Regions from separate parts of the Homo sapiens genome. Here all the other regions are linked to region 1. The links come from fine-mapping of genetic effects on plasma protein levels. A gene starts in region 1. Each other region holds a variant in brackets. All regions are shown on one strand. Distances are between the middles of the regions.

What was found. A credible set is the group of variants that fine-mapping cannot tell apart. PIP is the posterior inclusion probability: the model's chance that the variant is causal. Protein levels are from antibody-based Olink assays in UK Biobank. Linkage for the fine-mapping came from a reference panel and not from the study's own genotypes, which makes the PIPs less certain.
Region 2: its variant is the best candidate, but not a certain one, in a credible set for the plasma level of the SERPINE2 protein (UK Biobank, PIP 0.81).
Region 3: its variant is the best candidate, but not a certain one, in a credible set for the plasma level of the SERPINE2 protein (UK Biobank, PIP 0.83).

Annotation. Positions count from the first base shown.
Region 1 is chr2:224,038,220-224,040,976 of GRCh38, forward strand. SERPINE2 (serpin family E member 2) reads right to left here and starts at 1,067. Exons shown (of 9, transcript NM_001136528.2): 1 at 880-1,067. It overlaps LOC124907991 (a long non-coding RNA gene), which reads left to right and starts at 1,183. Exons shown (of 2, transcript XR_007088103.1): 1 at 1,183-1,323. RefSeq lists a silencer at 1,233-1,527.
Region 2 is chr2:224,008,706-224,011,462 of GRCh38, forward strand. The region is part of intron 1 of SERPINE2 (serpin family E member 2); the gene reads right to left. It overlaps LOC124907990 (a long non-coding RNA gene), which reads left to right and starts at 172. Exons shown (of 2, transcript XR_007088102.1): 1 at 172-452. RefSeq lists enhancers at 593-1,792, 717-1,292. The variant G/A (reference allele first, on the strand shown) is at 1,452.
Region 3 is chr2:224,024,443-224,027,199 of GRCh38, forward strand. All of the region lies in intron 1 of SERPINE2 (serpin family E member 2), which reads right to left. Among named protein-coding and RNA genes, the nearest start is that of SERPINE2, 13 kb to the right of the region's middle. RefSeq lists enhancers at 1,680-1,739, 1,800-1,849, 2,241-2,757. The variant C/T (reference allele first, on the strand shown) is at 1,650.

The DNA of each region.
Region 1 (2,757 bases):
GAACACCTTTTTATGCTGATGCTAAATATAAGAACGTCCCCTGCAAAGTAGCCAAAGCAAGACAGCAGCATTCGAGATTTCTCCAGAGACACACACACAAAGAATGTGTTTCGTTCATTAAAACACTAAAACCTTCAACAGCATCTTCCATAATACCTGAAGGTGGAGTGCTGTCTTATGTAATAGAAGCCTTCCTTCCCCGCTCAGTTTGTGGACACATTAAATGCCTAATTCCTTCCAGAATTTCTGAGTACCGTACTTTCATTTTACCTGCAGTCACTCATCCGCCTCGCAACTCCCGTTTCTACAGATGATGAAAATAGCAAAGACCTGCTCGCTCGGGTTAAATCGGCTGCCAGAGGCCAAGTTAAAGGCTTTCCCCACACCGCGCGTCACCTCCCTCTGCCCAGGCAGAGGTAACAAGTAAGAGTGCGCCAGTCTCTCCCCATCCGGCGGCGCGCAGCCTAAGTCCGGGGTAGGGGTTGCCGGCGAGCAGCTGGAAACCTCAGGTTCAGGGTCAGGGCCGGCTCGGATGGCCGGGCAGGAGCCACGCCGGCCCCGGTGCTCCCAGCTGCGGGTATCACTGGACGCCACCCCGGGGCGGCCCCGCCTTGCCCTGCCCGGGTCCCGCTCGGGGCTCCCGGCGGGCGGGACCGGGATGCCCGGCGAGCACCCAGCCCCGGCCAAGGCGGCCCGCGGGAGGCTGAGAAAGTTCTCTGCTCCCCGACGTCGGCGCCCCAGGGTCCCGCTGGCCCCGCAGCTTCCCGGCCGGGCGCAAGGTCAGGGAGCAGGGCCGGTGGCGCGCGGAGCCCCGGGGAGCGTCCCCCGCCGAGGGCAGCGCCGGCCGCGCCCGGGACTCACCGCGCAGCCTGTACTCACCGCGCTCGCTGGATCCCCAGGGGGCGGCCGCGGAGGGCGGTGCGGCCGCAACCGGAGCGGGAGCCTGGTCTCGGCGGCGCGGGGAGTCGGAGGACGCAGCCAAGCGGCGGCGGCGAGGAGGGTCACAGCCGGAAAGAGGCAGCGGTGGCGCCTGCAGACGCCGCGCAGCCCGGGCAGCCCCACAGCGCAAGCTGGCTGCCGCGGCGGCGGGGGCTTTATCGGCGGCGCCGCGCGGGCCCCCGCCCCTTCCTGCCGCCCCCGCCCCCGGCCCGCCTTGCCCCGCCTTCCCGCCGCCTCCTTTGTGTGGCCGCGGGCCGCAGCGTCCCCGCGCCCGGCCTCCAGGACGCCCCCTCTCCGCCTGCGACTTCTCGGATGCCGCCCCGCCAGGGGTCCGTGTCGTGGGGCTGCGCCCGGAACGCGCCGGGGAGACGCGCAGACCCCGAGGTGCGGCGCCAGCCCGGGCCCAGCTGCACGTGGGTCTCCCGGATGGGGGTGTGTGAGGTGGCGGGGGGAATACCAGGGCTCGTACCGCGTCCCTGAGACGCAGGGCATGTCGTCTTGGCTGCCCCCTGGAAGAGACAGAGGGCGCCCTGAGACAGCGCTCAGTCCTCCGGGTGATGGGGAAACGGTGCCAGGACGCGGCCGGGAAGGGGCAGATAACCCCTCGAGGCGTTTTGCAGGGTGTCCTAGAGCTGACTTCTCCCTGCCTAGGGGACAGAGGAACGGCGGCAAGTCGCCTTAGGCAAATACAGACGAGGGGAACCAGAAAACTGGATTCCCGGCTATGGTGATAGCATGAGGTACCCGCAGCGTCCTGGGAACCCAGCCCTTCTCAGCCGGTAACCACTGCTGCTGGGACCCGGTGCGCGATAGACAGGCACATACCCCAGGGGCCTGCAACAAATGACCGTCCCGCTCCGGGCTCTGTTACCTGGACCTCTCTTAGTTGGTTCCTCCTTTGCCTCTAGTTAGGTTTCTGGGGACCCAAGGACCCAACTTTAATGACAGTAATTTATGTAGCCGTTAGTGTAGAATCGTCGCTAGCAGGCAGACGGCCCCAACAGCGAGGAAGAAATGTAAATCTCCCTATACACAGCCCTGGATTAAGGGTACAGCTACTGATGAGAGCCACTTGGAAGATCAGCCTGCAGTCACCCCTTGGCATGCAGGTGGCCGTGCCAGAGTGTGCACGTGTGTGTTGGGGAAGGGGTTGCTCTGAAAAGTGTAAAATCTGGACCAGCCTAAGGGTGTTCTCAGTCTCTCATAGAGGGAAACAGGCTATGGGAGGCTTGGTCCTAAAATAAGGAGCAAACAGTCTACAAAAATGAGCATCTGTTTAATTATTTTACAGTCATACCAAATATTTATATTCAGTTACAGGGTAACTTTCTTATTCTCTGTGCCTGAAATGCTTTTTGTCCCAGGATCTTCTATGTTGTCTGCATCCTTACACTTGAGGTCACAACTCAAATGTCCTCTCCCCTAGGAAGCCTCCCCTGACCACTTGAGATAAAGTCACTTTATCCCCTCTAACCTATGACTTCCTTCATAACCCTCATCATGAATTGATTTTTTTTTTACCTTGTTTCTTGCTAGTTTTCTTCTACTCTCTCTCATTGGAATATACTCCCAGAGACCAGGGAAGAGAAACTAATTTCAATATTGTTTCCAACTCACTCTATCCCTAGTGCCTAGAGCCATACCACACATATAGCAGTTACTCAATAAATTTTGTTGACGAGTGGATGAACTACTAGCCAAGTGACTTTTAGACATGCTAAGAACTGTTTCAGTGACAGTATTGTGCTTGGTCCAGTCAGGGCGGTGTGGGCTGGAGCTGGGAACAATTCAAAGGAGGGGGGAAAGCCCACAGGTGTG
Region 2 (2,757 bases), 30 kb before region 1:
CTTTTAGTGAGAAACAGTAGCACTGAGCACCCTTATCTAATAAACCCTAAATGTTTTAAACTGTGGAAATGCTGAGCAACAGTGATAAGGAAAATCCAAAGTCCATTTACACCACTCTCTGGAATATATCCAAATACTGAAATTCAAATTATGAGAGCCAGACTGGTGACTGTTTCACACCGATGGCTCAAACATCACTGGAAAATCAAATTATGAAAGACCAGCTGCTGACACTGAACGGGTTTGCCTCCCATGGCCATCTAGACCGAGGGAGGCTCGCTGGATGATGACAAGATAAAGGAGTCTGCTGGGCATTAAAAGCTGGGCTGGGAGAATCAAAGTGGATTGCCCTCGTGTGACAGCAGCGAGCCTCCTGAATCAAGCCCAGCCTAAAAATGGAATCCTAACAGTGCAGATGCCAGCGACAAACAACCGACACACAGCACGGCAAGGTGAGTCCCCGGATTTATCTCAGCCTCTCCCCTCCCCGCCCCTCAGTGAAAGCTGACACCTTCTCAGGCACTGGGAAAGTCTCGCCATCCTTCTAGTCTCTGTGTTGCTAGGATCCTGGTTCTTGGAACCTAAGGCCCCTTATTAATCTACAGGGGCTACAGCAGGTAGAGAAAAACAGCAGGTATGTTTTGTCCGAATCATGACATCTCTCAACAGCTTTTCCTGCCAGGGCTTCCCAAAGAAATAAATGTACAGGCCGGGCACGGTGGCTCAAGCCCGTAACCCCAGCACTTTGGAAGGCCGAGGTGGGCAGAGTGCTTGAGGCCAGGAGTTCGAAACCAGCCTGGCCAACATGGCTTAACCCTGTCTCTATTAGAAATACAAAAATCAGCTGGGTGTGGTAGCACATGCCTATAATCCCAGCTACTCCAGAGGCTGAGGTGTGGGAATCGCTTGAACCCAGGAGGTGGAGGCTGCAGTGAGCCGAGATTGTGCTACTGCACTCCAGCCCAGGTGACAGAGTGAGACTCTGTCTCAAAAAAAAAACAACAACAAAACAAATGTACAGGCAAGGTTTGTGGCTGCCAAACTGAGACTTCTGAATGGCCTTAAGTAAAATCGTGCTGTCCAGCATTCAGACCAAACATTTCTCATCAGTACTTTGCCAACACTCAACGGTGTTTGGCAAGAGGCATTCTAGAAACTCTTCAGGAGGTGAGCCATGGAGATTAAGGCTGTCTCTGTAAGATGACAGTAATTGTTAATGTACAAGTAATCGGGGTTAAGCCTCACATATGGTCTCTGTCTCTCAAATCTGTATAAGCATTACTGAAATAATGTCCACCAAGACCTGTATTCATTTTCCAAACATCTACCACATTTTCTTATGATACCAAATCAGGTGAACAAGCAAACTAAAGTACATCTTGGTTATCCTTGGGAAGTGTACTAAGTACTAGCAAAATGACTCAGCATCTTTAAAATTTAGAGAACAAACA[G/A]GAAATGCCAACTTATCAAGGGGACAGCAGCTTGGTAGTTTTAAAATGTGTTTTTCAGGTTAGTGGAGAAAGACTTAGAGACATCTGAATTTTTTCTTAAATTTTTGTCTGCCTTCAAAGTGTATGCTCATTCTATGACACTAATTAATTTGGCCAAAAAGGAACCTAAAAATGTTTAGGAAATACCTTTTCAGCCGCTGAAAAGTATGGCAGCAACATCCAAATGGTCCCTTCAATGAAAAGACACATATTTTATTATAAAGTACACTCTGACATCAAGTGCCTTTTATCCATATATTATCCATTCTGAAATCTCTTTGGGTTGATGGGAAAAGGCTAGGGGGAAGGAGGGGATTAGAGCTTTGTTAGCAGTCTGTCTTTTAAAATTCAAGATTACAGGATATTCATTCTATTTTCCTCTAAGTTTCCGGGAAAATTCACCTAAAGTTCAAATTCCAATCCTACTACCCATTAACCAAGAGATCCAAGGCAAGTCACAATCTTCATCCGTCTTAGCTTTGTCCTCTGCCATATTAGAAATCATATCTCAAGGGTGGCCATGGAAATTCAATAGGTGCAAACTGAAAGACATAGTAACCAGCCTAATACCTGGCTCAGAGCAAGTGTTCAGTAAATGCTGGCTCTCTTCTTCTGGTCCTCTTCAATGCTCAAGACCTGAAATACTCTGATTTGTATTTCAGCAACCATTTAGAAAGTCTCAAGGATCAAGCTAAGAAAACAGTCAAACACTGCTACCTTGATAAAGCCTTGTCTGTATCTTTATAACTTCCTTAGACTATTTAAGACTCAGAAATAAATTAAGACAATGCTGGTGCGTTTTGCCGTCTCTGTAAGAGAACTGAGGGGTCCATTACTGTGGGAATGGAGGGGGAGGGGTGAGTATGTCCCAGAAAACCTTTAATAGTGCTGAGATATGTTTTTCGGTCTGCTGACTCAGATCATTAAATCTGGTTTACCTATGTATCAAGTCCTATAGACTTTTCTTTTTGATATGTCTTTAAGACGTAATGGTCCAAATGGCTGATTTCCTAATCCAGCAACCAAGAGGTGACCCAAGACATTATAGTGACATTGACCAATGGTTCTCAATCTTTAAAAACAAGGAAGTACCTTTTTAATTTCTCTCTTCAGCAAGAGACATGGAAGTACCTTTTTTAGACATAAAAAATATTACACATAGTTCATGACCATGTTTTTAGTATTGGTAAAAATACATAAAATACAACCATGAATTCTTAAACATGTCAATAAAATCCAAATTCTTTTTATCAGTACCTAGATACAT
Region 3 (2,757 bases), 14 kb before region 1:
TGCTACAGTTGATGCTAATGCCTTGTGAAGGGATTTAAGGGCCAGGGGACGTTTGCTATTTCCCAGAAGAAACCTATGCCCATTTAACACTACTGTGGAACAGGCCTGTTGTCTAGTCCTGGGCCTGCCTGCAATGGGTAAGTCACATACCTGATCTGCAACTCAGTTTCCTCATCTATAAGATCAGTGATAAGCCTCCTTCCCCACCAATGAACTTCAGAGAGCTGCTATGAGGATTACGCGAAGATGCTGAAGAACAAGTCAATAACTCTTAGGTTCCACAGAACTTTTCTTCACAAGACCCGCCTGCTGCCCTGCTGCCAACATCCAAAGCTAAGATAGGAGAACAGGGACTTCTAGAATTAAAAGTCAATGACAATGGAAGTTCTCCTTCTCAGCTTTATCTAACCTCTGGTATAAGAAACTGCACCAACGAATCTTTAGGGATGAAGGGGGCTGAGCTTCTTTTTGTCATGAAGTTGCATTTTATAGGGGAGAACATCTCCCCAGTTACTCACAGCCAATTATGGAGACAATGATCCCCAACAATGGGGCTGGTGAGTAGCTGCACAGAAGATGGGGGAAGAAACTTTCATAAAGCCCCTACTATGTGCACAGCTCTGTGAACACATCATTTCACAGACTCTTACACACAGAGATGCAGAGAGGTTGGGGAACCTGCCCACATCACACAGAAAAAAAAGAGAGCACACGGGGGTACCCACCACAAGACTGGCACGGCCAAGGGCTTCTCCCAGGGACAGGTCACCTGCCCGCCCCTTGCCCAGTCCCCTGGGTCTCTTTTCATTCCCTCAGAGTGCAGGATTGGCACTAACCCCATTCCCCAGCTTTCACCTCTCTTTTTCCTCCCAGATGTATAAGTGTGTTTCCAGCACATCTGACCAACTTCTCCCACATTGCAAGAGTGAGGCTCCCCTCCTCCAGCGTTAATTCTTTATTTCTTTGATTAACTTCTAATTCCCATGCATGCTTGGATATAGGGCATCCCCCAGATAAGACAGCCCTCTTCTTTTCCCAATGAGAAAATCCCTACCCCCTACAAATTTTGGTCAATCTGCCCAAATAAACTTTATGACTCACATGAAATCACATACCCTATGAGTTAGAAATAGTACTTTTCATTCCATGTCCACCTTCCATGAAGCAATTTAGCTCACAGTCTTCCCAGGTAGTGTCCACATGCCTGTCCTCAATTTGTGAGTTGTGTAACCATTCTTCTAAGCACAGCACCTCCTTACCTTCCAAGTTGCCTATCACACAGCACTTTTCAAAACGATGTGCAACACTGCCACTGAAACACCTACCCTAGGCCATCAGAAGCCCTTCAGAGTGACCAAGAAAGTTGCCCTCAGAGGCAAAAATATATTGACGATCCACACAGCATATTAGTGATCGTGTTACTTTTAAAGTGACCTTCAATGGTCTTAATAAAATTTCAAATGACAGAGGGCAGCTAGCTCTTCAGGAAACCCATTTCCTCTTCTTGCCAACCGCAGAGCTGGGCTACATTTCCTAGCCTTCAAGGTAGGTGGGCGTGACCATAAGGCTGAACTGTTCTTAATGAAATAGGAGAAGTGACACATTCCACTCCCAGGCCTAGCCTATCAAAATCTCCCATATGCAGTCCT[C/T]CATGATCTTTCTGCTTCCGCCAGTTCAATGCTGACAAGTACGTGACCTTAGCAGCTGCCTGTTAAATAAAGTGGAACCACAGACAGGAAGAGGCTGGGTCGCCAAATCACCAGGTTTCACATAAACACGCCCACTTCGGGCTTTATACAAGTGGAAAATAATCTTCCATCATGTTTGAGTCACGGTACATATTTGGGTTTATTTGTTACAACAACTAGCACTACCTTAACTAATTCAACGTTCAATATCTGGCAACTCTGAAGTTATAACCTCAAGAACAAGTACTAAATCTGTATTCAATTTCTTTGCCTCTCTTTTTTAAAATTTAACCCCTTTTCATGAAGCAACCTCGATAAGCATTCATAATATGCATTGACTGAGAGAATTTCAGGCGAATTTGCCTTCCCCATCTGTTCTCAGCCAGTCACTCATGGATCTCATCTATCTAGTTTTTTTGCGAACTCTTAATGATTTTGTAAGGACCCTACTAGACGGCAACTCCCTTTCTGAAGAACAATTTTGAGGAAATTTTTTGCTTCAGACACAGTTTCCAAGCCGGGACACTCTTTTCCATAGAGAAACTTCTGTATTTCAGTGCCTTTTCGTGACATACTCAGAAATTGCTCAGGTACCATTTTCAGCTTATGTGCCTGGCCCAGAAGGGATCAGGCCTTAACACAGGCTTGTGTATTCCCGTGTCTTGCTGTCATAGATATTTAATGCTTCACACCTTTCCAAAGTTGTCCATGAAAACTTTTGTCTTCCTTTCTAGGGAATTAATCTCTCCTCTGTGAAGGAGTTACCTGTTTTTCTTCAGCCATAAAGAGCACGTCAGAGACTAAATAGCCAACTCTTAGCTGGTACAAATCAATAAATACCAATTCTACAAAGTTTCGGGCAAAAAGGATTTAGTGGAGAGTCAAGTAAAAGAAAAAATGAGGACGGTTGTGCCCAGGAGGGCTACCTAGACACTGGTGTTTACCAGCTATGTGCCAACATTTCCCTCTGCAGAGAGATTTACCTCTGGCACAAAGTAGTAACTGACACTTAAGTCACTTCTCTGCATGAAGGGCTTGGCATTAGCACTACTGAGCCCCCCTGCTGGCT